Linked DNA regions of Homo sapiens: regions 2, 3 and 4 are each linked to region 1. Evidence: fine-mapped expression QTL. A gene starts in region 1. Each other region holds a variant in brackets. All regions are shown on one strand. Distances are from middle to middle.

What was found. PIP is the estimated chance that this variant, and not a neighbour inherited with it, causes the effect.
Region 2: its variant is fine-mapped to the expression of UTS2 in whole blood (TOPMed, PIP above 0.99).
Region 3: its variant is fine-mapped to the expression of UTS2 in whole blood (TOPMed, PIP above 0.99).
Region 4: its variant is fine-mapped to the expression of UTS2 in blood mononuclear cells (TOPMed, PIP above 0.99).

Annotation. Positions count from the first base shown.
Region 1 is chr1:7,849,378-7,857,484 of GRCh38, forward strand. UTS2 (urotensin 2) reads right to left here and starts at 3,688. Exons shown (of 4, transcript NM_006786.4): 1 at 3,524-3,688; 2 at 1,435-1,545; 3 at 263-306. The coding sequence starts at 3,626. RefSeq lists an enhancer at 3,208-3,896.
Region 2 is chr1:8,100,559-8,108,665 of GRCh38, forward strand. All of the region lies in intron 2 of ERRFI1-DT (ERRFI1 divergent transcript), which reads left to right. Among named protein-coding and RNA genes, the nearest start is that of ERRFI1-DT, 78 kb to the left of the region's middle. The variant G/A (reference allele first, on the strand shown) is at 3,452.
Region 3 is chr1:7,917,077-7,925,166 of GRCh38, forward strand. TNFRSF9 (TNF receptor superfamily member 9) reads right to left here. Exons shown (of 8, transcript NM_001561.6): 8 at 1-3,847. The coding sequence ends at 3,759. Among named protein-coding and RNA genes, the nearest start is that of TNFRSF9, 20 kb to the right of the region's middle. The variant G/A (reference allele first, on the strand shown) is at 3,989.
Region 4 is chr1:7,894,993-7,903,099 of GRCh38, forward strand. It overlaps a transcript of UTS2 not described here. Among named protein-coding and RNA genes, the nearest start is that of TNFRSF9, 42 kb to the right of the region's middle. The variant C/T (reference allele first, on the strand shown) is at 4,358.

The sequences.
Region 1 (8,107 bases):
TTTTTGTATTTTTAGTAGAGACAGGGTTTCACCATGTTGGCCAGGCTGGTCTCGAACTTCTGACCTCAGGTGGTCCGCCCGCCTCGGCCTCCCAAAGTGCTGGGATCACAGGCATGAGCTACCGCGCCTGGTCATGCTGGCCAATTATTTTAAGGTGTGGTTTCCACCAAGAACACTCCTCTAGTTCATGAATTCAGAGTCCTGTAAAACCAGTACAGAATGTTCACCTTTTTAAACCTAACTCATAAATAGAGTCACTTACCTTTCTCAAATTTCCTCTTGGGTTAAAAATGTTGGTACTTGAGTCTGAAAAACAGTTTTGAAGCCAGTTCATCAGATCTGTTGTTTCTCTTGTATGCTTGTTTTAAAATATACAAAATAATATTACTAAATTATGTCTAGTTTCTGGTCTTTTTCCACACTGCAGCAAGCTTTTCTTGAATGCAGACAGACAGGCACTCCTGTTCTTATCTCGAATTCACAGAAGTCACTGCATTGTCCTCAGTAACTTCGCAGTCCAGTAGCTCGTCAAAGATATTTTATAACAAATGAACTCCTGTCTATTAAACAATACCTATCTTAAAAGGCTCAAATTTTTTTTTTTTTTTTTGAGACAGAGTCTTGCTCTGTTGCCCAGGCTGGAGTGCAGTGGTGAGATCTTGGCTCACCACAACCTCTGCCTCCTGGGTTCAAGCAATTCTCCTGCCTCAGCCTCCCTAGTAGCTGGGATTACAGGTGCCCGCCACCATGCCCGGCTGATATTTGTATTTTTAGTCGAGATGGGTTTTCACCATGTTGGCCAGGCTGGTCCTAAACTCCTGACTTCAAGTGATCCGCCCACCTCAGCCTCCCAAAGTGCTGGGATTACAGGTGTGAGCCACCGCACCCAGCAAAAGGCTCAATTTTGTTTCCAGAACTTCCTGAGCATATGTGTCAATGCTTGGGGGAATGTGGCCACGGGGGAATAAGCTGACATTTTATTAATGACTTTCTGTGTGACTCGAGCATTTTACTTGCCTTGACTCATTGACTCTTCACAAGTTACCTTCTGAGGTGGAAACTTAATCATTCCTGATTACAGATTAAGAAACTGGAGTACAGAAAGATTACTTTAAGTTTTCAGTAAACGGGAAACTAGGATTTTAAATTGCACTCACTGGAAACTGGAATAATTACCACCAAGCTCTACCCCGCAAAAATAAAAGTCCACACAGAAAGACAAAATGCTGAGGTACCAAAGAGCACAGTGCGAGCAAGGAGCTGCTGGGGAAAAGAAGGTTGCACAGGCCGGGAGGGGAGAGTGTTGGTAATTACTTATTTTATATAGCTCATCTTTATATTCCAAAATAGAGCTTTACCTCTTCTAGATGAGGACAGACGGTAAGTTCAGTAGCAATTAAATCAGACACGCTATAAACATGAGAAGCATTTTACCTGCTTTCCTGAGAATATCCCCTCTTTCTGCACCCAGCATCTCTGGCAGTATCTGTAGAAGGGAAGCTCTTTCTAGCTCCTCCGGAGTTAAGCGCGCGTCTTCATGAGGTGCTACAGAGTAAAAACAGATACTTAGAATTGGGTTCATCCTTCAGTTAGTTATTTCTGTTCCTTGTGTCTTTGGCGAGCACCAGAGATAGGGAGATGAACACTAGAAAAACTTCCAACGCTGAGTTCATGACGTGTCATCAGTGGTATTCTAGAAGAGGTGGAAATGCTACCAGCCCGTGTGCCAGCCAGCAGAATGGGAAGCCGGGAGACGTGGATCTGACACCCGCGTGATGAGCCAAGCCCCTCGGCTGCCTCGAACAAGAGCTGAGGGATAAGCCACAGCCTTTCTCAAAACCATTTTGGTTCAAAAAGTCTGACTCTCCCTCATTTCTGCTTATCTACTGCTGCCTACTGCCTTTTTGCTTTTAGATATTTGGGTGGTGACATTGGAGAGGAAAAAGAAAGATCGTTTACAATCTTCCTATAAAGCCAGTAGGATGGTATCACCTCTTCTTTTACTGAACTTCAAGATTTCAATACAATTATTATACTTAGAATTGGCTTCAAAATCATCTGTAAGGAACTTGATTGTGGCATTTCCTATGTGAAATGTGGTCGACCAGATGGCATATAGAATGCATGGTAAGTGCGCTTAAGGTGTGTGGAAAGGGCACACCGGAGTGTGAGGCGTGGTAAGTGCAGACCTGCTGCTGTGTTGCGATTCGAGGCTGTGGGAGTCAGGGTGGGAGGCCATGTGTGGGACCAGCGTGCCACAGGCTTACAAATAGCTGCAACCTTGATTGGAGGACAGTGAGCAGATCATCATAAAGGCATCAGAGCACATTCACAGCACTTCTAAAGACTGTTAATGAAAATCTATAAAATTTCATCATCTGTAAATGCTGATAGGAAAGCACATTTCTGGAGAAATAAATGAGAACAAATTCTGCGATAAGCTGCCACTTGTTTCGAATTTGTGTGAGATGCTACACTCATTTCATCTATGTTTCTTAAATTACTTGTAAAATTTTTTAAGATGACAGTAGTAGCTGAGTATTTTCACTTATTTCATCTTGAGATGTGTGCTGTTTCTTTGTAAATAGCAGAGATTCAGTAAAGTTAATGCCAGTGTTTAACTATTAGTAGGACAGCCAATGATCATCTCGGTGACTCGGGAAGTTGGTTGGCAGTGCCTGATGACAGTGCTTGACGATCATCAGAAAGCTGCTTGGGATGAACTTTTAGAGACGAGAAACTATAAAATCCTTGGCTTAAAAGAGGGTTTGTTTGTTTTTTTTCTTTATTTAAAAAAAGCCTATTTAAAAAGTACTCAAGATTAAAGATAAGATTAAATCTAGTTAAGTTTTTGATGGAACCTAATCCCCAAGCATTAGCTTTCTCATTTCTCTAACTAAATGGAAAGATAATGGCAAAATGAGAAACTACTTGACTGATGTGTATTTCTTTAACTCAACTTAGACTTAAACTGAATTAACATAAATCAAAAGGAAACGATCAATATACTTGGAAGTCTATGAACTCCCTAGTTCCCTAGTTTGTCATTTACTAAAAAATTTTTAGTAAACATTTTTGTTTCGTAGAACACATATCAGATGATTTTTTTAAACAAAAGGTGAAACAAATAAATCCATTAATAATCTATAATTAGAACAACCAGTGCTACATTCAACCAGTTCATTTAAAGTAAAAACTAAAAGTAATGATGTTTTAAATTTCATGCAATTTTTAAAATTGGAAAAATGTATATATTACCCAAAACAAGAGTACAGAGGTAACATGAAACAAGCAATTATCCTCTTCTCCTTTTACATTGTAGAGACAGAAAAAAAACTGTATCCATTACTACATCTAAAATGTGCAGTAAGGATCCTTTAATATTCTTTTCAAAGCTGGGACTATTGAGAGAACAAGACTCCAGACTCCTTCGAGCAGGAATCCCATTCTTATCTCTAACATTGAATTTAAGACTAGTAAAGGCTCTTTCAAGACTAACATAAGGGGAAAAAAAAAATCTTACCTGAGAGTTGAAAGGATATTTCCCTGGAGTCAAGGAGAGGAAGAGATAAGAGAGGATTTAAGAATCCTATGAAAAGCAAACAGCAGGAGGCCAGCTTATACATGATCGCCACAAGATAGACGGCTTCCTTCTTGGCTTCTGTTGTAGAGAACTTTCAACTGTCTCCTCATTCTGCCTGCTCACTGATTATATATATCATCCTATGACCTGACATCATCCTCTCCAAAAAAAAAAAAAAAATGAATTTATTGGCTATGGAGGCTAAAAGGCAATCACTTTGCATTGATGTAATTTTTCAAGGTAACAAGTCATAGACAATAAATTAACTGTCTTGTTGCCTAGTGTACAAAGTAGGTATTATATAAAGAACAGTGAGTTTATAAATCTGGCAAAAGAGGCAACTTACAGCAATAAATCATGAATTAAAGGAAGGCTTGGATATGAGTTGAAGTGGCCAAAGCAAAGAGACGTGGATTTATGAGTCCGAGCAGAAGTGACGCAGAGCATAAGATGAAATACGTTGGTTTCCATTTTTTAATCTTTCATGAGTGAGTAGATGAGTTGCCATGCTGTGTTTAGGGCTGCCATCCCTGAAGAATGACAATCTGTGGATTAAAACGTAAAACCAGCTATTTCCTTTAAAACAGTGAAAAGTTAAAATACATAGCAAACATTGCTCCAGGCTCAAGACAATTCTGTACATACACGTGGCCTCATGTGAAGCCGCAAGCACTTCAATCTTCAGAGAAAGGAAATAACTTCATAAAGTTGATTATTATTCAGCAAGGAGGGAGGAAGGACTTAACACCAGAAAACTCGCTGATAAACATTTCCAGAATGTGGCCTCTACTCCCAACTGTACTCTGCCCAAGCTGGTCCAAGCCCGGATGGGTGGAAAGGTCCCCGACAGGCGTCCTGAAGTCTGCCTTCGGGCCTGCCACAGGCTCAGCACAGCAGAGTGATGCCAGAAGCATCTGCATAAGTCAGATCATGGTAGTTCTTTGCTCAAAACTTTCTGTGGACCTAAACACAAAAGTTACAAAGATAGGCCAGGCACGGTGGCTCATGCCTGTAATTTCAGCACTTTGAGAGGCCGAGGCAGGAGGATCACTTGAGTTTAGGATTTCAAGACCAGCCTGGGCAACATAGAGAAACACTGTCTCGGCCGGGTGCAGTGGCTCACGCCTGTAATCCCAGCACTTTGGGAGGCTGAGGCGGATGGATCACGAGGTCAGGAGTTTGAGACCAGCCTGACCAACATGGTGAAACCCCGTCTCTACTAAAAATACAAAAATTAGCCAGGCATGGTGGCACGTGCCTGTAATCCCAGCTACTCAGGAGGCTGAGGCAGGAGAATTGCTTGAATCCAGGAGGCGGAGGGTGCAGTGAGCCAAGATTGCGCCACAGCAGTCCAGCCTGGGTGACAGAGCGAGACTCTGTCTAAAAAAAAAAAAAAAGAGAAGGAGAAACACTGTCTCTACCAAAAATACAACAATTAACCAGGTGTGGTGGTGCATGCCTGTATCACTTGAGCCTGGGAAGTTGAGGCTGCAGTGAGCCAAGATCGTCCCACTGCACTCCAGCCTGGGTGACAGAGCGAGACCATGTCTCAAAAAAAAAAAAAAAAAGAAGAAAGAAAAGTGGTTACAACGTAATGATAGAACTACTAGGGGAAAAAACATGAACACCTTCACAACCTCAGGTTAGGCAAATATTTCTTAGACAAGACACAAATCACACAGGAAAAAAATTGAGACAGGAGGAATAAGTTCAAGAGATCTATGTACCTCAGGGTGACTCTGATTAATAACAATGTATAGTTGAAGATTTCTAAAAATCGATTTTGTGTTCTCATCACAAAAAAATGCTAAAAACGTGAAGTAATACACATGCGAATTAGCTTGATTCAGCCATTCCACAATGTATGCATATATCAAAACATCAAACTAATAACAATAATAATAATAATAATAATCATGGCCAGGCACAGTGGCTCACACCTGTAATCCCAGCACTTTGGGAGGCCGAGGCAGGTGGATCACCTGAGGTCAGGAGCTCAAGACCAGCCTGGCCAATGTGGTGAAACCCTGTCTCCACTAAAAATACAAAAATTAGCTGGGCGTGGTGGCAGGTGCCTGTAGTCCCAGCTACTTGGGAGGCTGAGGCAGGAGAATTGCTTGAACCTGGGAGGCAGAGGTTGCAGTGAGCCAAAATCACACCACTGCACTCCAGCCTGGGTGGCAAGAGCAAAACTCCTTCTCAAAACAAACAAACAAGTCATGATGTATACCATAGATACCATTTTTGTAAATTAATCAATAGATGAACAAAACTGATAAATTGGACTTTATCAAAATTAGAAACATTTGCTCAAGATACTGGTAAGAAAATGAAAAAGCCGAGCAAGGCGCGGTGGCTCACGCCTATAATCCCAGCATTTTGGGAGGCTGAGGCGGGCAGATCACCTGAGGTCAAGAGTTTGAGACAAGCCTGGCCAACATGGTGAAACCCTGTCTCTACAGAAGATAAAAGAATTAGCCAGGCGTGGTGGCGGGCCCCTGTAGTCACAGCTACTCCGGAGGCTGAGGCAGGAGGATAGCTTCAACCTGGGAGTCGGAGGTTGCAGTGAGCTGAGATCATGCTGCTGTATTCCAGCCTGGGCAATATGACAAAAGGTTTGAAAAGGACTTCAGGCTGGTCTTGACCTCCTGGCCTTAAGTGATCCACCTGCCTCAGCCTCCCAAAGTGCTGGGATTACAGGTGTGAGCCACCACATCTGGCCATTATTATTATTATTATTATTATTATTTTATTATTTTGAGACAGGATCTCACTCTGTCACCCAGGCTGGAGTTCAGTGGCGTGATCATGACTCACTGTAGCCTTGACCTCCCAGGCTCAAGCAATTCTACCTTGGCCTTCCAAATAGCTGGAACCACAGGCACATGCCACCACGCTCAGCTAGTTTTTTTTTTTTCAGATGGGGTCTCAATGTGTTGCCCAGGCTGGTCTCAAAATCTTAACCTCAAGCAATCCTCCTGCCTCAGCCTCAGCCTTCCAACCCTCTGGGATTACAGGCGCAAACCACCATGCATGGCTTTTTTATTTTTTGTACAGACAGGGTCTTGCTATGTTGCCCAGGCTGGCCTCAAACTCCTGGGCTCCAGAGATTCTCCTGCCTCGGCCCCCGGAAGTGCTGGGATTCCAGGTGTGAGCCTCCACACCTGGCTATCGCACTATTTTATGTATTTATCCTTTATAGTAGGCAGACTCGATAAATATTTGTTGAATCAGTGAGTGGGGCACCAGCCTATGGGAGTCTCTGTTTAGGGGAAAGAACGGTGAACAAAATAAAAAGTTTCTACTCTCATGAACTTTCTGACTGGAGGCGATAGACAACAACATTAACATACGCTGTAGGAATTGTTTATTGCTATGAAGAACAATAACAAGGAGACAGTACAGGGGCAGGTAGTCAGGGCAAGTGTGATTTCAGACAGGGCCCTCGGGATGCCCTGGAAAAGGGGCATCTGAGCAGGAGCCGAAAGGAACAGGGCAGCCATCCGTTCAGTGGTGAGTGGAGTGTGGAGCCTCCAGCGAGAGAAGTCGGGGAAGCGTGGCCTCCGAGGAGGAGGAACTGAAAGAAGATTCCTGCGAGGGCAAATAAAGTGAAGAGAGTCCCTGGGGGACCCCTGCTGGCAGGAGAGCCCAGGGCGAGTGCTCGCACACTGTCCTCTAAGATGGAAAGTGCTCGAATCACTTAAGACTTGTTAACTCTTTCGACAGATATTTCTCAGCACCCCCATGTGCCAGCAGGGTCGGACAGAGGACGGAACCTAACGTCCAAGAGAAACCACTTCCATCCAATTTAAGAAAACAGCCGGGCACGGTGGCTCAGACTTGTAAGCCCAGCACTTTGGGGGGCCGAGGCAGGTGCATCACCTGAGGCCAGGCGTTTGAGACCAGCCTGGCCAATATGGTGAAACCCCATCTCTACTAAAAATACAAAAATTAGCCGGGAGTAGTGGTGGGCGCCTATGATCCCAGCTACTTGGGAGGCTAAGGCAGGAGAATTGCTTGAACCCAGGAGGTGGGGGTTGCAGTGAGCCGAGATCGTGCCATTGCACTCCAGCCTGGGCCACAAAGGAAGACTCTGTAGGAAAAGAAAGAGAGAGAGAGAGGGAAGGAAGGAAGGAAGAAAAGGAATGAAGGAAGGAAGGAAGGAAGGAAGGAAGGAAGGAAGGTGAAGCATGTTGGAAAGACACTGGATAGCTTCCAGAATCCCAGGAAAAGTGGAGGAGCAGGGACCAGGATCCCACTGGCCTTCTGACCTCTGCCCTCTGCCCTCAGTGACTTGACTCCTCCCTCTTCCCTCCTTCCTCTCCCTACTCACCCTTGCTCTCCCCACAATCCTCCATCTCTCCTGTAATTCAACCTTTTGGCCTCAATGCCCTAAATAAGTGCATTAAGTATCAAAATGTAATTTTGGTAACCATTAAAATAGTAACCAAAAGATTATAAAAACTTGGAAAATATAATAAAAGAACTAGAATATCAGGTAGTTACTACTATGTTAAAAAAAAA
Region 2 (8,107 bases), 250 kb after region 1:
CATGAATCACAGCACCCTGCCCAAGATTGGTTTAATTTTCAAACTAAATTGATGTAACTCACAGAATAAAGGAGAAAAAATTTCTGATATCTGTGTTGGTGGTCCCTAAGGCCTCCTCCAGATTCGCCTCCTAGAGAGGACTCACGGGCTTCAGGATCTAGTCATGCTCATGGCTAAGATTTATCACAGAGGAAGAACACAAAGTAAAACCAGCGAAGTCAAAAGGCACTTGGGGTGAAGTCTGGTGTGAGTTTCCAAAATTCATTTCCTCGTGCTGAACTCCCTCAGCAATGAGTTGTGACATGCGTGAAATGTTGTCTTCTAAGAAACTTGCAGAGACTCGGAGCCCAGGGTTTTCACAAGGGGCTGGTCACATAGGCGACCTTTGCATGGCACATACCAAAATTCCAGACTCCCCTCAAAAAAGGAAAATAGGTGTTCAGCGTAAACCACATGGTTTGTACCAAACAGGTTAGGCAACGTGAGACTCTCATGAGGCCTGGGAATAACGGGAACCCTCCTAAAATCTAAGTCGCAGATGCCAGCCAAAGGCTAACATTTGCAAACAGGACTTTCTTTATTTTTGATTTTATTATTATTATTATTATTATTATTATTATTATTTTTGTGTGTGTGATGGAGTCTCACTCTGTTGCCCAGGCTGGAGTTCAGTGGTGGGATCTCAGCTCACTGCAACCTCTGCCTTCCGGCTTCAAGTGATTCTTCTGCCTCAGCCTCCCTAGTAGCTGGGATTACAGACGCCTGCCACCACACCCAGATAATTTTTGTATTTTTAGTAGAGATGGGGTTCCACCACATTGGCCAGGCTGGTCTCAAACTCCTGACTTCAAATGATCAGCCCTCCTTGGCCTCCCAAAGAGCTGGAATTACAGGTGTGAGCCACCGCACCTGGCTGCAAACAGGACTTTCAAAGGAGAGCAGTCCCAGCCCTGCCATGTTAACTCTTCTCTACACAGTATCTCAGTAGATGTACCCCGTTCCCCCGAAAAGAAAACACTTCTGAAAAAATTTCATACCCACTCATAAACTCTCAGCAAATTGGTCATAAAAGGGAACTGCCTCAACCTAATGAAGGACAGCTTCAAAAAAACCCTACAGCTAACAATATCCTTAATAGTGAAACACTGCTTTTCCCTGAGATTGGGAAAGGACAAGGATGTCCACGCTCACCTTTGCTATTCAACATGTACTGGAGGTCCTCATTCGTGCAATAAAGCAAGAAAAATAAATAAAACCCACACATATTGGAAAGATGTAAAACTATTTTTACTCACAAGCAACATAATCTTGAACATAAAAAATCCAAAGGAATCTACCAAAATCAAAACAAAACAAAACATGTTATTAGCTATAAAGAGTGAGTTTTTTAAGGTTGAAGGATACAAGGTCAATATTAATTGAAATTTCTATATACAATTGCAAAAAATAGTTAAATTTCTATATGTAATAGTAACAAATTGAAATTCAATTGAGAATTGAATTTTTCAATTTTCAAACAATTGAAAATTCAGATAAAAATACCACTTACAATAGCTTCAAAAATCATGAAGTACTTAGGGATAATCTTAAGAAAATAAGAATAAAACCAATCTATAGAAAACTCTAAAATACTGCTAAGAGAAAATTTAAAATATAGAAATAAATAGGTAGCTAGACCATGCTGTGGATGGGAAGACTCAATATTTTTTTAAATGTCAATTATCTCCAAATTAATTTGTAGAGACCATGCAATGCCAAGTAAAATTTTAGCAAAGCTTTTGTAGCAAATGGTAAACTGCTCTTAAAATTGATGTGGAAACAAAAAGAGCCCACAAAGAACCCAATAAACTTATTTTGAAAATAAAGAACAACATTGGAAAATTCATATTACCTGATTTCTGGATTTAATATTCAGCTTCGGTAATTAAGACGGTGTGGTATCACTACACAAATAGACAGCTCAATAGAACAGAAAAGTGAAAACAGACCCACATATACCTAGTAAATTGATATTTGACAAAGTAGCCAGGATAATTCAGTTGAGGGGAAAGACAGTCTTTTCAACAAATTATGCAGGAAAAACTGGACATCTCCGTGGAAAACAGGAGCCCCGATGTTTATCTCATACCTTACATAAAACTAGCTTGAAATGGATCATACACCTTAACATAAAACTTAGAGATGAATATATAGGAGAAAAATCTTTGTAACCTTGGAATAGGCAAAGATTTCTCAGCTAGATATAAAAAGTATGAACTATAAAAGAATTGAAAATAGACTTCAAAGTTAAAAACTTTTGATTTTGGCAAGACACTGTTAAGAAAATGACAAGGCAGGTCACAGACTGGGAGACAGTATTTTCAGTACAGCAAGCTCATGAAAAGATGCCCCATATCATTAGATATCAGGGAAATACAAACTAAAACCCCATTGGAAGGCTAAAATTTAAGAACATGACAATACCAAGTGCTGGTGAGAATGTGGAACACCTGGAACTATCGTATGTTTACGGTCGTCATTCAACATGGTAAGACCGCTCTGGATAACAGCTCCACCATTTCTTATGAAGTTATATATGTGACTTTATTCCACTCCTAGGCATTTATTCAAGAGAAGTGATAGCACAGGCTCACATAAAGACATTTACCAATAAAGACATTGAGTCTTTATTCATAATAATTGTCAAAGAACCAGAAACAACCCAAATGCCCATCCACAGTGAATGAATACATTGTGACATGTCTATAAAAATGAGATTATTTTGAAATACAAAGGAACAAATTAATGATTCATATGGATGGATTTTAAAAACATGCCCAGTGAAAGAAGCCAGGGTATCTACTGTATGATTCTATTTATATGAAACTCTAGGAAAGACAAAGTGAATCTAGGGCCGGGTGTGGTGGCTCACGTCTGTAATCCCACCACTTTGGGAGGCCAAGGCAGATGGATCACCTGAGGTCAGGAGTTCGAGACCAGCCTGGCCAACATGGTAAAACCCTGTCTCTACTAAAAATACACAAATTAATCGGGCGTGGTGATGGGTGCCTGTAATCCCAGCTACTTGGGAGGCTGAGGCAGGAGAATCACTTGAACACGGGAGGTGGAGGTTGCAGTGAGCTCAGATCGTGTCTCCACACTCCAGCCTGGATAACAGAGTGAGACTCTGTCTCAAAAAAAAAAAAAAAAAAAAAAAAGCAAATCTAGAAGACAGGTCTCTGGTTGCCTTGGGCCAGGAGGGGTTGGTCCAGATTTACCAGGCAGGGACGTAAGGGAACCTTTTAGGGTGATAGAAATGTCCTTTATCTGTTTTTTTTGTGTGTGGGTGGGTTTTTTTTTTTTTTTGAGACGGAGTCTCACTCTGTTGCCCAGGCTGGAGTGCAGTGGCACAATCTAGCTCACTGCAACCTCTGCCTCCCGGATTCAAGTGATTCTCCTGCCTCAGCCTCCC[G/A]AGTAGCTGGGACTACAGGCATGCACCACCACACTCCGCTAATTTTTTAATTTTTAGTAGAGATGGGGTTTCACCATGTTGTCCAGGCTGGTCTCAAGCTCCTGACCTCAGGTGATCCATCTGCCTCAGCCTCCCAAAGTGCTGGGATTACAGGCGTGAGCCACTGTGCTCAGCCAGAAATATTCTATAGCTTAATCGTGATGATGGTTACATGGGTGTACATATTCATCTGTCGAAACTCACGTTGCATACTTAAAGTTTATACATTTTATGGTATGTAAATTATACCTTAATGAGGTTGAGTTTAAACCTCCAGAACTTTTCTCATCTTGCGTGATTGAAACTGTGTGCCCATTAAACAACCCCCCACTCCCTCTTCTGCAGCCGCTGGCAACCACCATTCTACTTTCTGTCTCTATTCATTTGGCTGTTCTCGGTACCTCATGTAGGTGGAATCATACAGTGACTGTCTTTTTGTGACTGCCTTATCTCACTTAGCATAATGTCTACAAGGCTCATCTATTCAAATTTTTTTGAGGGGCCATTATAATGATTTTTTGTAATGCATGGCAGCCTTGCTCCTTGCCATATTGCCGCCCCCTAACCCCACATGAGTCCCAGCTTCAGCAAATGACTCCCATCTGGTGACGTCATTATCCCCATCTTCTGCTCCAATCATTGCCATTCGCCCAGAGTTTAGAAGGGGCTGCAGAATAAGGAAGTGCACGGGCTGGGGAGAAACAGCATGTTAGGTAAGGAGAATTCCCCTTAGACAGAAAGAGGAAACACAAGCCCTTTCACTAGGGACAAAAGTCAAAGCTGACAAGACTGAGATTAAGACATTGCCTAGAGCCCTCAGGTCAACAGAGAGCCCTACTTCCTGCATCCAGTGGTTTACCTTTTTTTTTTTGGACATAAGGTCTTGCTCTGCCACTCAGGCTGGAGTACAGTGAGTGGTGCCATCGCGGCTCACTGCAGCCTTAACCTCCTTGGCTCAAGAGATTCTCCCACTCTGCGTAGCTGGGATCACAGGCACGAGCCACCATGCCTGGCTGATGTTTGTATTTTGGTAGAGATGGGGTTTTGCCACGTTGCCCAGGCTGGTCTCGAGCTCCTGGGCTCAACCATTCCTCCCGCCTAGGCCTCCCAAAGTGCTAGGACTACAGGCATGAGCCACCGTGCCAGGCCACTTGATCTACCTTTTAAGACACACCTTGGCGTGCCTGAAGTCAAACCTTGACACAAAGCTGAGACACGTGTTCCCAATCATCTAACTCCATAGTGTCATTTGCAGATAGAGGTCGTGGCAGCAAGTAATCACAGTTTCTATTGACCATATGGAGGTATGAAGGCAACTGCTTCATTAATTTTTTGAAGCCAGTGATTATTAAGGATGGAATCTGTTATTATTTCAATGTTTATTGAGGACCCATAATGTGCTACACACTTGTTTTGATCACCAAATAAACAGTCTGCAAAAAGCAATATGGCTGTGGTTGCTTCAAATTTCCAGGTCATGGGGACCAGTTGCAAGGGAAGCATGAGTGACTGGATAAATATTAATGAGCATCATGTGGATGAGCATAGGGAACCTATATTTAAGGTAATATAATTTAAACTATATTTAGGAGGAGGATGCTGTCTGAGGTGTTGATTATAACCCAGGAAGGAGATCCGTAGGTCATAGTAACCAAGTCAGACCATGCTGGGGACCATCTGCAGGTGTGTTGGAAACAAAGTATATTTTCATGCTATTGAATGTATATTGGGTGAACCAATGAATAAACGAACAATTTTAGCAAATCACTTGTCTTTCTGGCTCTCAGGACAAACACCAAAATGGCCTTGCTATTAAAATGTAAACCTTTTCTTTCTTCCTGAACCAAGACTCTCAGGCCGTGCAGAGTTTCTGTTCTTAACTTTGGTTTCCTTGGCTGGGCACGGTGGCTCACACCTGTAATCTCAGCACTTCGGGAGGCCGAGGTGGGCAGATCACCTGAGGTCAGGAGTTTGAGACCAGCCTGGCCAACATGGTGAAACCCTGTCTCTAATAAAAATACAAAAATTAGCCAGGTGTGGTGGCGGGCACCTGTAATCCAAGCCACTTGGGAGGCTGAGGCAGAAGAATTGCTTGAACCCGGGAGTCGGAGGTTGCAGTGAGCAGAGATTGCATCACTGTACTCTAGTCTGGGTGACAGAATGAGACTCCGTCTCAAAAAAAAAAAAATTTTTTTTTGGATTCCAGTGTGAGACTCCTTATTAGGAAAAACATTGTTGACTAATACATGGTTATCTAGTCCTGTGGTGACAACCTATTTTTCATGAAGTCAAGTCAGGAAAAAGAAAAAAGATTTTTAAAAAAAGTCCCTATTTAAAATCAGAATAGATTTGAGACCCATAGAAAATATGTAGACTTAAAAAATTTAGATAATCTTATTGACTCAGTAATAAAATGCCTTTGAGAAAAATGGAACTGCATTGCTAACATCAGCTACATCAGTCTGTAGTAAAATGAAAATCTTTTCTAATCTTTTATCCAGAAATTAGATCTTGGCCTGTGTAATGACAAGAATTGGTCTATATGTCCTTCATCACGGATGTGGCCCTTTGTGGCTTAGGTTATTGGCTGTGACTATCACTGGTGAGACGTGCTCCCTGCCTCTTCCCTCACGCCTTCTACCCAAACAGCAGTATAGCTTAAAATAAGGAATTTAATGACTGGTGCAAGATATAATAATACTTTAGCCATATTGTGTATAACATATGTAACCATAATGTATATAACATACACATGAGAATTAAAACATGCTGTAATTAGAAAGATCATTACATTGTTTGTAATTAAATATTTAAGTACATGCCCTGTGTCAAGCGCAGTACAAGCTGTTGGGCAAAAAGGACTAAGCAATAATAAAAAAGACATAATGACGAGTGCCAATGAGGAAGTGGAGAAACTGAAAGCCTTGTACACTGCTGGTGGGATTTTAAGATGGCGCAGCTGCTTTGCAAAGCAGTTTGGCAAGTTCCTCAAACAGCTAAACATGGTGTCACCATATGACCCAGCAATTCCACAACTAATTATGTACCCAAGAGATACGAAAATATATGTCCGTGAAAAACTTGTACACAAATGCTCATAGCGGCATTATTCCTAATAGTAAAAAAGCAGAAACGACCCAAATGTCCATCAGCAGATAAATGGATAAGTAAAATGTCACGTACATCCACACAGGAGTGTTATTTGGCAATAAAAAGCAATAACCACATGCTATGCTGTGGTCTGAATGTCTGTGCCTCTCCCATCCCCCAAAATTCCTATGTTGAAACCTGATCTCCAATGCAAAAGTATTAAGAAGTGGGACATTTAAAGCTGGGCATGGTGGTGTGTGCCTGTAATCCCAGCTACTCGGGAGGCTGAGGCAGGAGAATCGCTTGAACCTGGAAGGCAGAGGTTGCAGTGAGCCGAGATCGCACCACTGCACTCCAGCCTGGGCAACAGAGATACTCCGACTCAAAAAACAAAACAAAACAAAACAAAATTGTACCTAAAATTCCCCATACTTTTAGAAATTTAAAAGTTTCTAAATAATGTAATATAAAATAAAATATCATTATAGAAACAAGGAAGTATTTGAGAGTGAATGAGAAAAATAATTACACATTAGAACTGGAAGAATCTTGCTAAAGCAATAATTAGAGTAAAAATTTTAGCCGTAAATGTTTCTTTATATTAGAAAGGAACTGCTGCTGTTAATTAGTGAGCCAAGCATTCAGTGTAACAAATTGGATTAAGGACTTCGGAATGAATGTGAAGAAAGTAAAAACAAGGGAATACTCAAAATAAAAACAGAAATCAGTGAAATCGATAACAAAGAAATAGAAAGGATTCATAAGGAAAAATGGGTTCTTCGAAAAGACCAAAAAAAGAAACACTCACTTCAGCAAAACTGATCAAGGCCAGAAGAGAGAAGGACCAAGTCAAGCCTGAAATAGGACCCATAAATACAGGCCCAGCAGAGCTCCAAATGATAAGAGGACCCTGTAAACATCTTTAAGACTATCCACTGATAAGTTACCAGAGCAAGATACCTTATCAACAGTGACTCAGGAAGAAATAGTAAACCTGCCTGGTTCTAAACCCATTAAAGAAATTGAAACAGGCCATGTGCCTTGCCTCATGCCTGTAATCCCTGCACTTTGGGAGGCCAAGGAGGATCACTTGAGTCCAGGAGTTCAAGACCAACCTGGACAATATGGCGAAAGCCCATCTCTACGAAAAATACGAAAATTAGCCAGGGGCGGTAGCACGTGCCTATAATCCCAGCTATTCAGGAGGTTGAGGTGGGAGGATCACCTGAGTCTGGGAGGTCGAGGCTGCAGTGAGCTGTGATTGTGCCACTGCAATCCAACCTGGGCAACTGAGCAAGACCCTGTTTCTAAAAAAAATAACAAAGAAATTGAAACAGACAATAAAATCTCTCCTCAAGGAACTATCGAGCCCAGGTATTTCTACAGGTAAGTTTACCAACTGTTCAAAGAAGTAATAATCTCAGTATCGCACACTCTTCCAAGTCACAGGAATGAAGAAAAGACTCCCTAATGAATTGAGACCCAAATCAATTTGTATAAGCACAAAACTAAAAAAGCAGGCAAGAA
Region 3 (8,090 bases), 68 kb after region 1:
ATGCCACCATGCCTGACTAATTTTTGTATTTTTTAGTAGAGATGGGGTTTCACCATGTTGGCCAGGCTGTCTCAAAACTCCTGACCTCAGGTGATCCATCCGCGTCGGCCTCCCAAAGTGCTGGGATTACAGGCGTGAGCCACCGTGCCTGACCTAGCTAAGACACTTCTGAAGTAGAAAAAGAAGGTGGAGGGAGATGTCCTACCGGATATCGAGAGCTGTTACAAAGCTATTGTAATAAACACAGTGTGATACTGGCACAGGATAGACAAATTGACAATGGAACAGAACAGGGAGCCCAGAAGCAGACCCATGGCCCTATGGAAACTTGATGGATGGTAGGTGAGATTGCAGACCCGCAGGAGAAAGACGACGTATTGAATACATGGCGCAGGGACCAGTGGTTACCTACATGCAAGACATGGAATTGGATCACTACCTCCCAACAGGCACAAAAGCCAGTTCCTGATACATTAGACTTCAAGATGAAAGACAAAACTTAAAACTTTTGGAATAAAATGTGGGCAAACCTCTTTATAGTATTGGGCAGAAAAGGATTTCTTTAGCCAGGCAAGAAAAAATGTTAACCATATGAGAAAACAGTTATAAATTTAACCAAATCAAATGAAGAACTTTTTGCTTATTACCAGAAAGACAAAGAAAGACACCATTAATTAGAGAAAAACAGGAGGGGCGCGGTGGCTCATGTCTGCAATTCCAGCACTTTGGAAGGCTGAGGTGGGAGGATCACTTGAGCTCAGGAGTTCAAGACCAGCCTGGGCAACATAATGAAACCTCAGAAACCTCACCTCTGCTAAAAATAAAAATAAAAAAGAATTTTATAAAAAATTTTAAAAAGGGAAAAATAAATTACAAAGGATATATATATATATATATATAGATATAGATAGATAGATAGATAGATAGGCAGAATTTCACTCTTGTCACCCAGTCTGGAGTGCAATGGCACAATCTTGGCTCGCTGCAACCTCTGCCTCCTGGGTTCAAGCGATTCTTCTGCCACAGCCTCTGGAGCAGCTGGGGTTACAGGCACCCGCCACCATACCCAGCTAAGTTTTGTACATGTTTAGTAGAGATGGGGTTTCACTGTGTTGGCCAGGCTGATCTTGAACTCTTGACCTCAGATGATCCACCCACCTCAGCCCCGCAAAGTGCTGGGATTACAGGTGTGAGCTACCGTGCCTGGCCACAAAGAAGATATTTTTTAACACATATAACTGACCAAAGATTATTATCTAGAATACATAAAGACCTTTTAGGAATCAGGACAAACAACCACATTTGGGTTTGTTTGTTTCTGAGAAAAGGTTTTTCTCTGTTGCCCAGGCTGAAGTGTAGTGATGCGGTCCCAGCTCACTGCAACCTCTGCCTCCCAGGCTCAAAGCGAACCTACTGAGTAGCTGGGACTTCAGGTGCACACCACCACACCCGGCTAATTTTTGTATTTTTTGTAAAGACAGGGTTTCGCCATGTTGCCAAGGCTGGTCTCGAACTCCTGGGCTCAAGCGATCTGCCCACCTTGGCCTCCCAAAGAGCTGGGACTACAGGCATGAGCCACTGCACCCGGCCCCAAGTTTTTTTGCAAATGGGCAAAAAAGCATGAGCAAGCATTTTATTTAAAAAAATAAACACAAATGGTATATAAATATTTGACAAGGTGCTCATCAGTAACCAAGCAAATGCAAACTAAGACCACAGTGAGATCTCATTCTATACCCACTGGCTTGGCAAAATTAAGGGCACCTGATAGTACCAGAGGGTAGCAAGGATGTGGATCAATGGGATACTTACATGACACTTATATGACTGACGGGAGTACATTAGAACAGCCACTTTGAAAAGCAATTTGGTACTGCAGTAGACTATTGTTCAGAAATATCTTCTCCTCACCCCTATTTACAGAATATACTTTTCTGCCCTATTGATGCCTGGCTTGGCTGCAGGATTTGCTCTAAAGGTTATAGTAGAACCAACTAAATAGGAGCAGAAGTGACAGATACCCATTTGCCATGCGATGGCCAATGTTCCAAATAGAAGCTGCTCCCTCCACCTAAATCCCAGAGTAAAATAACATGGGACAGAGGCACGCAAGCTTGCAATAGGCATGTCATACAAAAGTGTAAGAAATGGCCAGGCATGGTGGCTCATGCCTGTAATCCCAGCACTTTGGGAGGCAGAGGTGGGCAGATCACCTGAGGTCAGGAGTTTGAGACCAGCCTGGACAACATGGTGAAACCCCGTCTCTACTAAAAATATAAAAATTAGCCAGGCGTGGTGGCACATACCTGTAGTCCCAGCTACTTAGGAGGCTGAGGCAGGGAGATCACTTGAAACTGGGAGGCGGTGATCCAAGATTGTACCACTGTACTCCAGCCTGGGAGACAGAGTGAGACACTGTCTCAAAAAAAAATAAAATGAATAAAATTTAAAAAGCTATCCTTAGATCATAAGCCAAACAATGGCAGGCATGCCAGGTTTGCACCTGTAATCCCAGCTACTTGGGAGACTGAGGCGGGTGGATCACTTGAGCCCAGGAGTTTAAGGCTAAAGTGTGCTATGATTGTGCCTGTGAATAGCCACTCCATTCCAGCCTGGGCAACAGAGCAAGACTGTCTCAAGCAAACCAACAGACAAACAAAGGCAAATGGTGCACCAGGTTTGGCCATGGGAGTTTGGCGGCCCCCACTCTAGTGCTGTGGTAGGACAATGAGCTCACAGGTGTTAATTTTCTCACTGTACTTCATACCTATCATATGCAGTTCATTTATTGGCTTTGGTATAAAATATTATGTTAAAAGTTAAGAATTTTTAGAATGTAACCTGGCTTAAAAGGGAGCAGGACAAAGGCAGAAGGTGTGAGGATGGAGAAGACCATAGGATATACAGACACTTGAACTCTTTCCAAAACTTCCTCCAGGCCTGAGGTTTTTTGTCCTTGACCCTAAACTCAGGCACTCTGCTCATACTCCCCCCTGACGGTGGAGCATGTCGTGTTACATGACAGAACCCACGGAAACTTTAGTCGGGTACTTACTGCACCTCGTGGCTTATTGTCATATGTCATATTAGCACCAAAAAACAAACCTGCATTGATTTTGATTATAATTATAGTTGGACCACTGGACTATGTAATTGAATTTAAACTATAATTTTCTTTGGATTTCAAAAAAACTAGCTCAAACCTGTTAAGTGGTATCTAGAAAATGCTTTTTTTTTTTTTTTTTTATCACCAGCTCTGTCCTCATCTGTCTGTTCTGTTAAAAGTGGTGCATTATTTTGGCCGGGCCTGGCAGTTCATGTCTGTAATCCCAGCACTTTGGGAGGCCAAAGTGAACCTAGGAGTTTGAGACCAGCCTGTACAACATGGTGAAATGCCATCTTTACCAAACAAAAAACAAAAAAGTTAGTCAGGTGTGGTGGCCCTTCCTTGTAGTTCCAGCTACTCAGGAGACTGAGGCAGGAGGATCACTTGAGCTCCCAGAGGTCAAGGCTGCAGAGAGCCATGGTGGTGCCACTGCACTCCAGCCTGGGTGACAGAGTGAGACCCTGTCAAAAAAAAAAAAAAAGTGGTGCATTTTTAAAGGCCAACTCATTGGCATTTAGAAAAGAACGTGTGTTGGGGGAATCCTGGGTATTATGTAGGATGGTGTTCTTGCTTTTGAAAGCTGTGATAGCGGATGACTCATATTTCCTTGCTTCTTTTCAAGAAAGTCCCAACAGCCCTATTGACTTCCATTTCACAGTTCACATCCTCCTTCTTCTTCTTCTGGAAATCGGCAGCTACAGCCATCTTCCTCTTGAGTAGTTTGTACTGGTCTCATAAATGCTAAAAAAAAAATTTTAAGATACGTATATTTTGTTGTCTATTTGAATCATTTAACACTTATTTTCCATAAATTATAGCTGCAGAACATCTCTAAGCAGCAAACATTCTCCCCTTTAATTTTAACAAACTCAGCCAGGCGTG[G/A]TGGCTCATGCCTGTAACCCCAGCACTTTGGAAGGCCGAGGTGGGCAGATCACTTGAGGTCAGGAGTTCAAGACCAGCGTGGCCAACATAGCAAAACCCCATCCCTACTAAAAATACAAAAATTAGCCGGGCGTGGTGGCAGGTGCCTGTAATCCCAGCTACTCAGGAGGCTGAGGCAGGACAATTGCTTGAACCCAGGAGACAGAGATTGCAGTGACTTGAGATGGCGCCATTGCACTCCAGCCTGGGTGACAACAGCGAAACTCTGTCTCAAAAAACAAAACAAAACAAAACAAAACAAAACAAAACAAAACAAAAACAGGCCGGGCGCAGTGGCTCATGCCTGTAATCCCAGCACTTTGGGAGGCTGAGGCCGGTGGATCACAAGGTCAGGAGTTCAAGACCAGCCTGGCCAAGATGGTGAAACCCCGTCTCTACTAAAAATACCAAAAAAATTAGCTGGGCGTGGTGGTGGGCGCCTGTAATCCCAGCTACTCGGGAGGCTGAGGCAGAGAATCGCCTGAACCTGGGAGGTGGAGGTTGCAGTGAGCTGAGATTGCGCCACTGCACTCCAGCCTGGGTGACAGAGTGAGACTCCATCTAAAAAAAATTATAATAATAATAGTAATAATAATTTTAACAAACTCATCCACAAGAGAGGTAACAGCAAGGATGAACTTCCTCTAGAGATTATTTGAAATTTGTTTCCTCTTACCAAATATTTGTATTGGTCTTTAAGAACTATTTTCTTTATTTTCTACATTAGCTAAAAAAGCATGAATCTTAAGCATGAATCACTAAACCATAAAATATTAGCCATATCCCAATCATAGCTCTAGTTTCAATTCAGCAGCACTTATTTTCGTCTTGAGGGTTACTGAGATTCGAGATCCGATGGTTTCCTTGGAATGCAGTGTTATGACTCCAGGATTGTGAAGGTATCCCCACTGCTTCCATCTGTTAGGAACCAAGAACCGATCTGTGCGTGAGCTGCCAGGCTTTCTTTTACATGTTAGTGAAGTATTTGTGTTACTGCTCCGCAAATTTCAATCCTAAGCAGATATTTATTTACAGACTGGCAAGGCAAAAAGTCCTACCCCGATTTCATATGCTTGTTGCTATAAAAAATAACCACACCATCTCCTAGAACTTATGAAAAACTGGCAAGATGTTCAGAAATACCAACGGGATGTCTTTTGAAATTGTTCCCAGGTTGAATTTCAAAATGGAGATCTCTTCTGGAAAGATTGAGATGTCATGTTTTCCGTATTTGTCCTGCTGAGTACTGCTGAAAACCTCTCAGAAAGGCAGAGAGAGGAAGGCCAATTGGGTCAGGATCTCCAGACCCAAGAAACAACATGGCAATGGGTTTCTTTCTGCCTCATTTCCCTCTGACTGGGAACTAGAGAAGCAGCACTCTAAAAATGCCAATAGCGTGGACAAAACAAAGCAAAAACCAAGAAGAGGCCAGGCGTGGTGACTCACATCTGTAATCCCAGCACTTTGGGAAGCCAAAGCAAGCAGATCATCTGAGGTCAGGATTTCGAGACCAGCCTGGCCAACATGGCGAAACCCTGTCTCTACTAAAAACACAAAAATTAGCTGGGCATGGTGGCGCTCACCTGTAATCTTAGCTATTCGGGAGTCTGAGGCAGGACAATGGCTTAAACCCAGGAGGCAGAGGTTGCAGAGAGCTGAGATTACACCACTGCACTCCAGCCTGGGCAACAGAGCAAGACTCCATCTCAAAAAAACACATAAAAAACTAAGAGGAGCTTGTACTCTCTAGTTATGAGACCAGGAAAGGGGCAGCATAGCAAGACTACAAACTTCTTTTTTTTTTCTTTTTTTTTTTTGAGATGGAGTCTCACTCTGTTGCCCAGGCTGGAGTGCAATGGCGTGATCTCAGCTCACTGCAACCTCCGCCTCTTGGGTTCAAGCGGTTCTCTTGCCTCAGTCTCCTGAGTAGCTGGGACTACAGGTGCCCGCCACCAGGCCCGGCTAATTTTTGTGTTTTTAGTAGAGATGGGGTTTCACCATATTGGCCAGGCTGGTCTCAAACTCCTGACCTTATGATCCGCCCATCTGGGCCTCCCAAAGTGCTGGGATTACAGGCGTGAGCCACCACACCTGGTCCAAAAACTTCTAGACAATAACCACTCAATTCTAACAAAACACCACAAAAAACACCGTGGCTCCGCCTGCAAGCCCACCAGGAAGGACTGAGTAGAGAGCCTGGACTTCCACCCTCACGGCTGATTAAGGCTCATCTCCCCCTCCCTCCTGGGGTAGTGTCAGAGGAGGCCTAGTGGGAGCTAGAACTCCCACGTGTCTAGCAGTAAAAAGGAGACCCTCACCCTCCAGGAGGTATAGCATAGAACCCAAACTTCCTCCACCCCTGCCTGGCCGTAACGAGCTGCCCATCCTCCTTCCTTCCCTAGAGTGATGTCAGAGGAACCCTGAGAAAATACAAGATCTAAATTAGATCCAGAAACTGGGTGTGGGGGCTCACGCCTGTAATCCCAATACTATGGGGGCCAAGGCAGGAGGATCGCTTGAGTCCAGGAGTTCTAGACCAGCTTGGGTAACAGAGCAAGACCCTGTCTCTACAAAACATTTAAAAATTAGCCAGGGGTGGTGGCACATGACTGTAGTCTCAGCTACTCTGGAGGCTGAGGTGGGAGGATCACTTGAGCCCAGGAAGTTGAGGCTGCATTGAGGCGTGATCATGCCACTGCACTCCCGCCTGGGTAATAGAGCAAGCAAGACCCTGACTTCTAAAAAATTTTTTTTTTACTTAGGCCTAAATCTAACAAAACACATACAGAACTTGTATAGTGAAAACTACAAAATGCTGGTGAAATAAATTTTAAAATGTATAAATGAAGAGACATACTATGTTCCTGCATTAGAATACAGTCATACAGCGTACAACAACGTTTTGGTCAAAAACAGACTGCATATATGATCGTGGTCCCATAAGATTATAGTGGAGCTGAAAAGTTCCTATTGCCTCGTGATGTCCAACCATCATAACATTGCAGCACAGCTCATTGCTCACGTTTGTGGTGATACTGATGTAAAAAACCTACTGAGCTGCCAGTTGTGTAAAGTGTAGCATATGCAATTATGTACAGCACATAATCCTTGACAATGACAATAAATGACTATGTTAGTAGTTTATGGACTTACTATACCATACTTTTTATAGTTATTTCATAGTATATTCCATATATATATATATATATATATATATATATATATATATATAACCAGTTAAGGCCGGGTGTTGTGGCTCACACCTGTAATCCCAGCACTTTGGGAGGCCAAGGCAGGTGGATTGCCTGAGCTCAGGAGTTTGAGACTAGCCTGGGCAATTTGGTGAAACCCTGTCTCTACTAAAGTACAAAAAATTAGCCAGGCATGGCGGCATGCACCTGTAATCCCAGCTACTCGGGAGGCTGAGACAGGAGAATCCCTTGAACCCGGGAGGCAGAGGTTGCAGGGAGCCGAGACCGCCCCATTGCACTCCAGCCTGGGCAACAGAGCAAGACTCCTCTCAAACAAAAAACAAACAAACAAACAAACAAACAAAAACCAGTTAATTGTAAAACAGCCTCAGGCAGGTCCTTTGGGAGGTATTCCAGAAGAAGACATTGTTCTCATAGGAGATGACAGCTACATGCATGTTTTTGCCCCAAAGATCTTCCAGTGGGACAAGATGTGGAGGTGGCAGACACCAACTCTGTGTGGGTCTAGGCTAATAAGTGTGTTCGTGTCTTAGTTTTTCACAAAAAAAGTTTAAAAAGTAAAAAGCAATTTAAAAACTTTTAAATAGATAAAAGCTTATAGAATAAGGAAATAAAGAGAAAATATTTTTGTACAGCTGTACAATGTGCTTGTGTTTTAAGCTAAGAGTTATTACAAAAGAGTCAAAAAGTTAAAAAAAATTTTTTTTAAGTTTATAGGCTGGGTGCGGTGGCTCATGCCTGTAATCCCAGCACTTTGGGAGGCCGAGGTGGGCAGATTACCGGAGCTCAGGAGTTCGAGACCAGCCTAGCCAACATGGTGAAACCCCATCTCTAATACAAAAATTAGCCAG
Region 4 (8,107 bases), 46 kb after region 1:
TTATATCTGTCCAGATGTTTAATTTGTATCTTCTTCGTCGGCTTTGTGCATAAGGACAGCATATGACTCAATTTGTCGGTTAAAATTAGGCCTAGGCCTGGCACGGTGGCTCACACCTGTGATCCCAGAACTTTGGAAGGCTGAAATGGGTGGATCACTTGAGGCCAGGAGTTTGAGACTAGCTTGGCCAACATGGGGAAACCCTGTCTCTACTAAAAATACAAAAATTAGCCAGGCATGGTGGTGGGCATCTGTAATCCCAGCTACTCAGGAGGCTGAGGCAGGAGAATCCCTTGAACCCGGGAGGCAGAGGTTGCAGTGAGCTGAGATTGAGCCACTGCACTCCAGCCTGGGTGATAAGAGCGAGACTCCATCCCAAAAAAATAAATAAATAAATAAAAATTAGGCCTAAACTGAAAATGTCTACAGTGATCTTTTTTCCCCCTTAATCCTATTCCCTTTAACTCTTAGGGAACAGAGTGATTCAAAGCTGCTGTGCTTAGTGCAGGAGAAAATTCTCAGGACTGAAAATCTCAGTAAAAGGAAGATGAGGAGTGCAGGCTTGTTTTAAAATCAGTAAATTGTCAATTATTAATTGACAGATAACTACCATCTGACGTGATGGAAACTGAAAAATCCTCCTTCAAAATAAGAGCCAAACAAGAGCTTGAATTGCCCAATCTCAACTTTTTACTCAAAAATCGCTAAAGTTCATTCAGGAATTTCATTTTGTAACTGAAATAAAAGAGTTGGATATGCTTCATGGGATCTGTGTATATTGAAAAAGCAGTTTTATGAATTATTGATAAAACTCTATTTGAGTGATTTTCACTTCCAAATTACATGAGGTTTCTGCTTCTACATTTTCTTAGTCCCGGCATATTTGAGGATATGCGTCAAGCCATTATGGTACAAAGTCTGGGTTCTCTCCATTTTCCAAGCCAGTGCTGGATATGCTAAACCCTAGATGCAACATGCACCTTTATATCAGTACTTGAGATAAATGACAGTCTGTGTTTCTGTCATCAGACAAGATAACAGAAGTAAAGGGAGCAAATGCCACATCTCCCTTTCAAATGAAAATGCTCCTGAAAATGCTTCCCAAGGAAAATATTATCAGTGTAGAGTAGAATTGTTTTCTAGGTGTTATTTGAACTTCAATATCTCAGTTAAGCTCAAAAACTGTGTTTTCATTTTTTCTGTAATTAGATACTTGAGTTCTCAAAAGTGATATTGCAGATAAGTGGGGAAGGGATGTTTATCCATGAAAAAAAAAAAAAGTGTCCCTACCTCACACCAAACATAAAAATCAGTTCTAGATGGATTAATTAAGACAGAGGTTAAAACTTCATCAAATTAAACCTAAACCCAGATGGCTTTACAGGTGATTTCTACCAAACATTCATGTAACTGAGCATTAATCTTATAATATTGAAGTATAAATTATAGGCTTTGAATACAATTTTAATATTTGTGTGTGTATGTGTGTGTTGTTCTTAGTGGAAAATGAAATGTTCCTGAGGAAGTCTTTAAGAAGTTTTAAAATGTTATTCCATATAGGTTTAGAAAAATAAATTATTTTATTATGTAAAAATTTTTATAATATAGTCACTGTAATATCTGATAAGATTTTCTGTGCCAGATGCTAGACTTTTTTCAATTTTTCTTTGACAATTAGGTTCATCAGAACCTGTATATTGAAAAAGAAGCTTTTTTTTTTTAAGACAGAGTCCCGCTCTGTCTCCCAGTCTGGAGTGCAGTGGTGCAATCTCAGCTCACTGCAACTTCCACCTCCCAGGTTCAAGCAATTCTCCTGCCTCAGCCTCCCCAGTAGCTGGGACTACAGGTGCGTGCCCCCATGCCTGGCTAATTTTTGTATTCTTTTAGTAGAGATGGGGTTTCACCATGTTGGCCAGGCTGGTCCTGAACTCCTGACCTCAGGGGATCCACCCACCTTGGCCTCCCAAATTGCTGGGATTACAGGCATGAGCCACTGTGCCTGGCTGAAAAAAAAAAGCTTTATAAATTATGTATAAAATTATATTTGAGTCATTTTCACTTCCAAATTACATGAGATTTCTGTTTCTACATTTTCTTTGTCTTGGCATATTTGATGATGTGCATTGAGTCATTATATAGCTTCTAAGAATCTGTTTACTTTTTACTATGTTAACAATGAGTTCTTGGGGATATTCCTGTTTGAAAATCACTGTACGTGTAGTAAATCTATTTCTGGGATCTCCATTCCCATTCCATTGGTCAACTTCTTTTTCCTTCTGCTGATACCACACTTTGTAAATTACTACATCTTTTAATGCTTGTTTATCTGGTAGGGAAAGTCCCTGTATCCTATTCTTGTTTAGGAATGACTGGGCTATTCTTCACCCTTTGCTTGTTTATATAAATTTTAAAGATTTTAGAGTCATATTGTCAAGTTCCTTGAAAATCCCTGTTGAGACATTTATTGAAACTGTACTGACTCTATAAATCAATTTGGAGAGAAAGATATCTTTACAATATGGAGGCTTTCTATCCATGAACATATTATGTCTCTCCATTTTTTAGGTCTTCTTTAATGTCTTTCATTAATGTTTCATAATTTTTTTTTGAGACAGAGTTATGCTCAGCCTGTTGCCCAGGCTGGAGTGCAATGGTGCGATCTTGGCTCACCACAACCTCCACCGCCCAGGTTCAAGCAATTCTCTTGCCTCAACCTCCTGAGTAGCTGGGATTACAGGCACCCGCCACCACGCCCGGCTAATTTTTGTATTTTTAGTAGAGATGGGGTTTCACCATGTTGGCCAGGCTGGTCTCGAACTGCTGACCTCAGGTGATGCACCCACCTCAGCCTCCCAAAGTGCTGGGATTACAGGCATTAGCCACCGTGCCCGACCATGTTTCATAATCTTTATATATGTCGCATCCTTCTTTTGGTAGAGCATTCCTAGGTACCTTCTGGTTTTGTTGTTACTATGCATTGTTGCTAATAGGTTACAAGTCAACTGATTAATGTACATTAATATTATGACCAACCATCTTGATAAACTTCTCTTGTTATTTCTAGTATTCTACAGATTTAGGGTTGTCCATGTATACAACCATGCCATCTGCAAATAAGAATGGTTTTGTTTCTTCCTTTGGAATCTTCAAAATTTAAATTTCTTTTTTCTTGTCATAAGTTACTGTCTAGAAACCCCAATACATGTAAAATATAAGTGGCGATTGTTTTGTCCAAACCTGTGGCTGGAGTTACCCCCAAAAGTGGAGGCAGGGGAATTCCCAAAAAGGAGTACCGCAAGCTGTCCTGAGATCAGGCCAGTTAAATTTACAAAGAAAAAAAGCACTAAATGCCAGCCTGGAAAAAAGCATTTATTAGGGGAACTTATATACCGAGAACTGCAGAGTACCCTCAAGATGGACAGAGAGAGAAGGGGTGCTCTGACCAGGTATCTCACAGCAAGGGGGCTCAGAATATAGAGTTTTGTTTTTTGTTTTTTTTTTGAGACGGAGTCTCACTCTGTCGCCCAGGCTGGAGTGCAGTGGCGCGATCTCGGCTCACTGCAAGCTCTGCCTCCCAGGTTCATGCCATTCTCCTGCCTCAGCCTCCCGAGTAGCTGAGACTACAGGTGCCTGCCACTACGCCCGGCTAATTTTTTTGTATTTTTTAGTAGAGACGGGGTTTCACTGTGTTAGCCAGGATGGCCTCGATCTCCTGACCTCGTGATCCACCCACCTCGGCCTCCCAGAATATAGAGTTATATGAAGGTTTGGTCCAGAGCTAGGGACAGTTTTTTTCAAGTAAACCTAGATACTTTCATCAGTGCCTGGAAATGTTCAAGGCCCTGATTTGGGTTCAAGCCTGTTGGACAAAACCTATACAGTTGGCTGGGTTACTGTATTAGTCCATTCTCACACTGCTATAAAGAAATGCCTGAGACTGGGTAATTTATAAAGAAAAGAGGTTGAATTGGCTCGAGGTTCCATAGGCTGTACAGGAAGCATGGCTGGGGAGGCCCTGGGAAACTTACAATCATGACAGAAGGTGAAGGGGAAACAGGCACATCTTACATGGCCAAAACAGGAGGAAGAGAGAGAGGAGGGAGGTGCCACACACTTTTTAACAACCAGATCTTGTGAAACCTCATTGACTATAATGAGAACAGCATCCGCCCCATGACCCAATCACCTCCCACCAGGCCTCATCTCCAACATTGGGGATTACAATTAGACAAGAGATTTGCTGAAGACACAGATTCAAACCATATCAGAGAGCAGTCAAGGCAATCTGATTTTCGGTAAGGACACAGAAAGAAAACAGAGGCCTGAGGGACCCTACAGCGATCGTGACCATCTTTAT[C/T]CTGTTTCAGCTCATAAGTAAAACACTTTCAACATTTTCTCATTAAGAATAATGTTTACTTTGAGTCGATGCAGTTAGGTGTTTTAAAAAAATAAAATAATAATGTTTACTAATTTTTTTCTTTAGATATCCCTTATCAGTTAAGGAAGTTCTTATCTAGTCCTTTTTATTTTTTGAGACAAGGTCTCACTCTGATGCCCAGGCTGGAGTGCAGTGGCGTGATCATGACTCACTGCAGCCTCAACCTTCCCAGGCTCAGGTGATCCTCACACCTCAGCCTCCTGAGTAGCTGGGACTACAGGCACGAACCACTGCACCTGTCTTTATGATCTTTTTTAAACACTGTTAGATTTTGTTTGTGAACTATATTAACGTAAGAAGTTATCCCACAATTTAGTGTCTTGAAACAGCAAGCATTTGTTATAACATGTTTTCTCAGGAGTCCAGGAGTGGCTGAGCTATGTAGTTCTGGCTCAGGGTCTCTCAGGAAGTTGTGGTCAATGTGTTGGTCAGAGCTGAAGTCATCTGGAAGCTTCACGAGGGAAAGACCTGCTTCCAGGCTCACTGTGTGACTGTCAACATGTAGGCCTCTCAGATACAGCAATTGGCTTCCTCCAGAGACAGCAATCGCAGAGAGAGCGAGAGTGTACCCAACCCGGAAGCCACAGACTTTTTATAACCTGGAATCATCAGATGCAAGTCACTCCATGCTCAAGTGGAGGAAAGCTTAGCTCCACTTCCTGAATGTAGAAATATCAAATGAATGGCCAGGCACAATGGCTCACACCTGTAATTCCAGCACTTTGGGAGGCCAAGGCAGGAGAGGATCACTTGAGCTCAGGAGTTCAAGACCAGCCTGGGCAACATAGTGAAACCTCTTCTCTATAAATAATTTAAAAATTAGCCAGGCACAGTGGTGCATGCCTGTATTGCCAGCTACTCAGGAGGCTGAGGTGAGAGGATCACCCGAGCCTGGGAGGTGGAAGCTGCAGTGAGCCTTGATTGTACCACCACACTTGGCCTGGCGACAGAGCCAGAACTTGTCTCCAAAAAAAGAAAGAAGGAAAGAAGGAAGGAAGGAAGGAAGCGAGCAAGGTAGGTTAAATAATGTGTGGGCATGAAACACCACATTAATATTTTGTTTTGGCCAGGTGTGGTGGCTCACGCCTGTAATCTCAATACTTTGGGAGGCCAAGCCAGGTGGATTACCTGAGGTCAGGAGTTCGAGACTGGCCTGGCCAACATGGCAAAAACCCCATCTCTACTAAAAATACAAAAATTAGCCAGGCACAGTGGTGGCTGGCGCCTGTAATCCCAGCTACTCAGGAGGCTGAGGCAGAAGAATTGCTTGAACCAGGGAAGTGGAGGTTGCAATGAGCTCAGATCATGCTACTGCACTCCAACCTGGGCTACAGAGTGAGATTCCATCTCCAAAAAAAAAAAATTGTTTCATGTTTTTGCCTCTTTTTCTTTTACTGTCCTTGCCTGGTTTTAGTATCAAGGTTACACTGGCCTCACAGAATACCTAGGAGAAGATAAACCACTTTCTTCTATTCTCTGGAAGAGTTTTTATAAAATAGGAATGATCCACTCCATGAAAGTTTAAGAGAACTTACCTGGAAAGTCATCCAGGTCTAAGTTTAATTTGACAAAGATTTTTACTTCTGTTTCAATTTCCCTAATCATTTTATGACTATCCATACATTTTCTTTCTTCTTAAGTCAGTTTTGGTAAGTTACGTTTTTTCTAGGGAATTGGTCATTTTGTCTGAGTTTTCAAATGTATTGGCAAAAACCCGTTCATAGTAGTCTGTTATCGCATGGTAAGCTTTCATTCTACATAGATTAAGTAATGGAGCTTGGATGTGAAGCAGGCTATTGGAAGACTACTGCAGTAATCCAGGCCAGAAATAACACAGGCATGAATTAGGACAGTGAGAGTAGGATGTGAAGAATGGATTGGATTCTAGAAATACACACTGGGATTTGTTGTTTCATTAAATGTGGGTGGTGAAAGAGAGGAAAGAGTCAAAAGGTACTAATCTGATGTCTGCCTTGGAGAGGAGGTGGAAGGAGCTGCTTTATGGAGGAAAATGTTAGCATTTACTGTAAAGGTTTCCATTCATTGAGGTGTTCTATGGATCAGGCACTGTGCTACTTGCTTTATATGTATACATGTATATGCTATATACATATGTATGTATGTAAATATATACATACAGCTGCTATATACTTGGATGTGTATATATATTCATCTATGTGTGTGTGTGTGTGTGTGTGTGTATATATATATTTATATTCTCATTTAATCCTCACAAAAAGCCTGTAAGGTAGGTGCTATTGTCTTCATTTTACAAATGAGGAAACGGACTTCGTGTGAGGAAATGGACTTCGTGGAGGAGATGGTTCAATCCAGTGCCACCAAAACAAAAACCCTCGGCCAGTTTGGAACATCCTGGGTTTGAGATGCCTGTGAGGATCCACACAGACTGGCCCAGCAGATCACGGAACGTGTGAGGTCTGTAGGGAAAAGCATTTGAGAAAGAAGGAACAGCAAACTCCAATGTCCTAAGCCAGAGAAAAGTTTAGTGGATTCAAGGAGCAGAAGGAAATCCAGCGACCCTAGAGGGAGTGGGTGCGAGGGAGAGGGTGATGGATGAGGTGGGAGAGAATGACCGGGGTGGCTGAGAGCAGGGCTGGACTCAGCGCTGGTAACACCAGGCTGGGAGGGAAGCTTTGGGGCTCTGTGGCTCTGGGTAGGGAGGACTGCGGAGGGTGGCAATTCCCCACCAGCTCCTACAACAGGGTCTGGGATCAGACACAGCCTTTGGGCTCCAGGCTATCTCTGCCCCCGGGTGAGGGTTATACAGACCTGACTCCTTCAGGGAGAGTTTTGTCCTGATGGGACCACCCTGCTTTTTTGTATGGAAGTTAGAAATTATCTTCTCTCTGGGCTCTGGGCAGATTGCCTGTCTCCTCAACAGGGAAGGGGTGATTCTCTGGGGGAAAGCGGGAAGTCGGGGAAGTTCTGACAATGTAGTCATTTTGGTAAAGACTCTGAAAATCATTCCCATTCACATCACAGGGGCCTAAAGATGGCCTGGGTCGTCAGTGCGGCTTTTTCTATACTTCCACTCCCCATACATTTTCTTTCTTTTGGCGACTTGCACATCATTGTTGGACTATTAAGTTATGGGGGAAGGGCGTCCCTACTAAGGAGCCTCCTAATTCTTTTTGTTGTTGTTAATCTAATTTTTTATAGGGACGGGGGTCTCGCTATGTTGGCCAGGCTGGTCTTGAACTCCTGACCTCACGTGATCTTCCCACCTCGGCCTCCCAAAGTGCTGAAGAAGTGAGCCAGCTTCCCCGGCCAGCGCCTCCTATTTCCTTCCCTTTAATTAGGCGGCACGTTAGCCTTTAACAGAGGCGGGCCACTGGCGGCGTGGTTTCAGGTAAGTCGCTGAACCTCTTTAGCCATCTCCTTCCCATCCCTGAAGAAGAGGCCTAAATTAGAGAATGCGGGGTTCCTTCCGCGCTCAGAGCCTTCCCTTTGATCCCGAGGGAGGCCTGCGCGCTGGTGGTGTCTACTGCCCTCTTGTGGTAGAGCGTTTTTTGTTCTCCAGTTTACTGTCTGGCTTTTCTCCCTCCCTCCCTCCTTCCCTCTTCCCCTCCTTCCCCTCCTCCCCTCCTTCCCCTCCTTCTCCTGCTTCCCCTCCTTCCCCTCCTTCTCCTGCTTCCCCTCCTTCCCCTC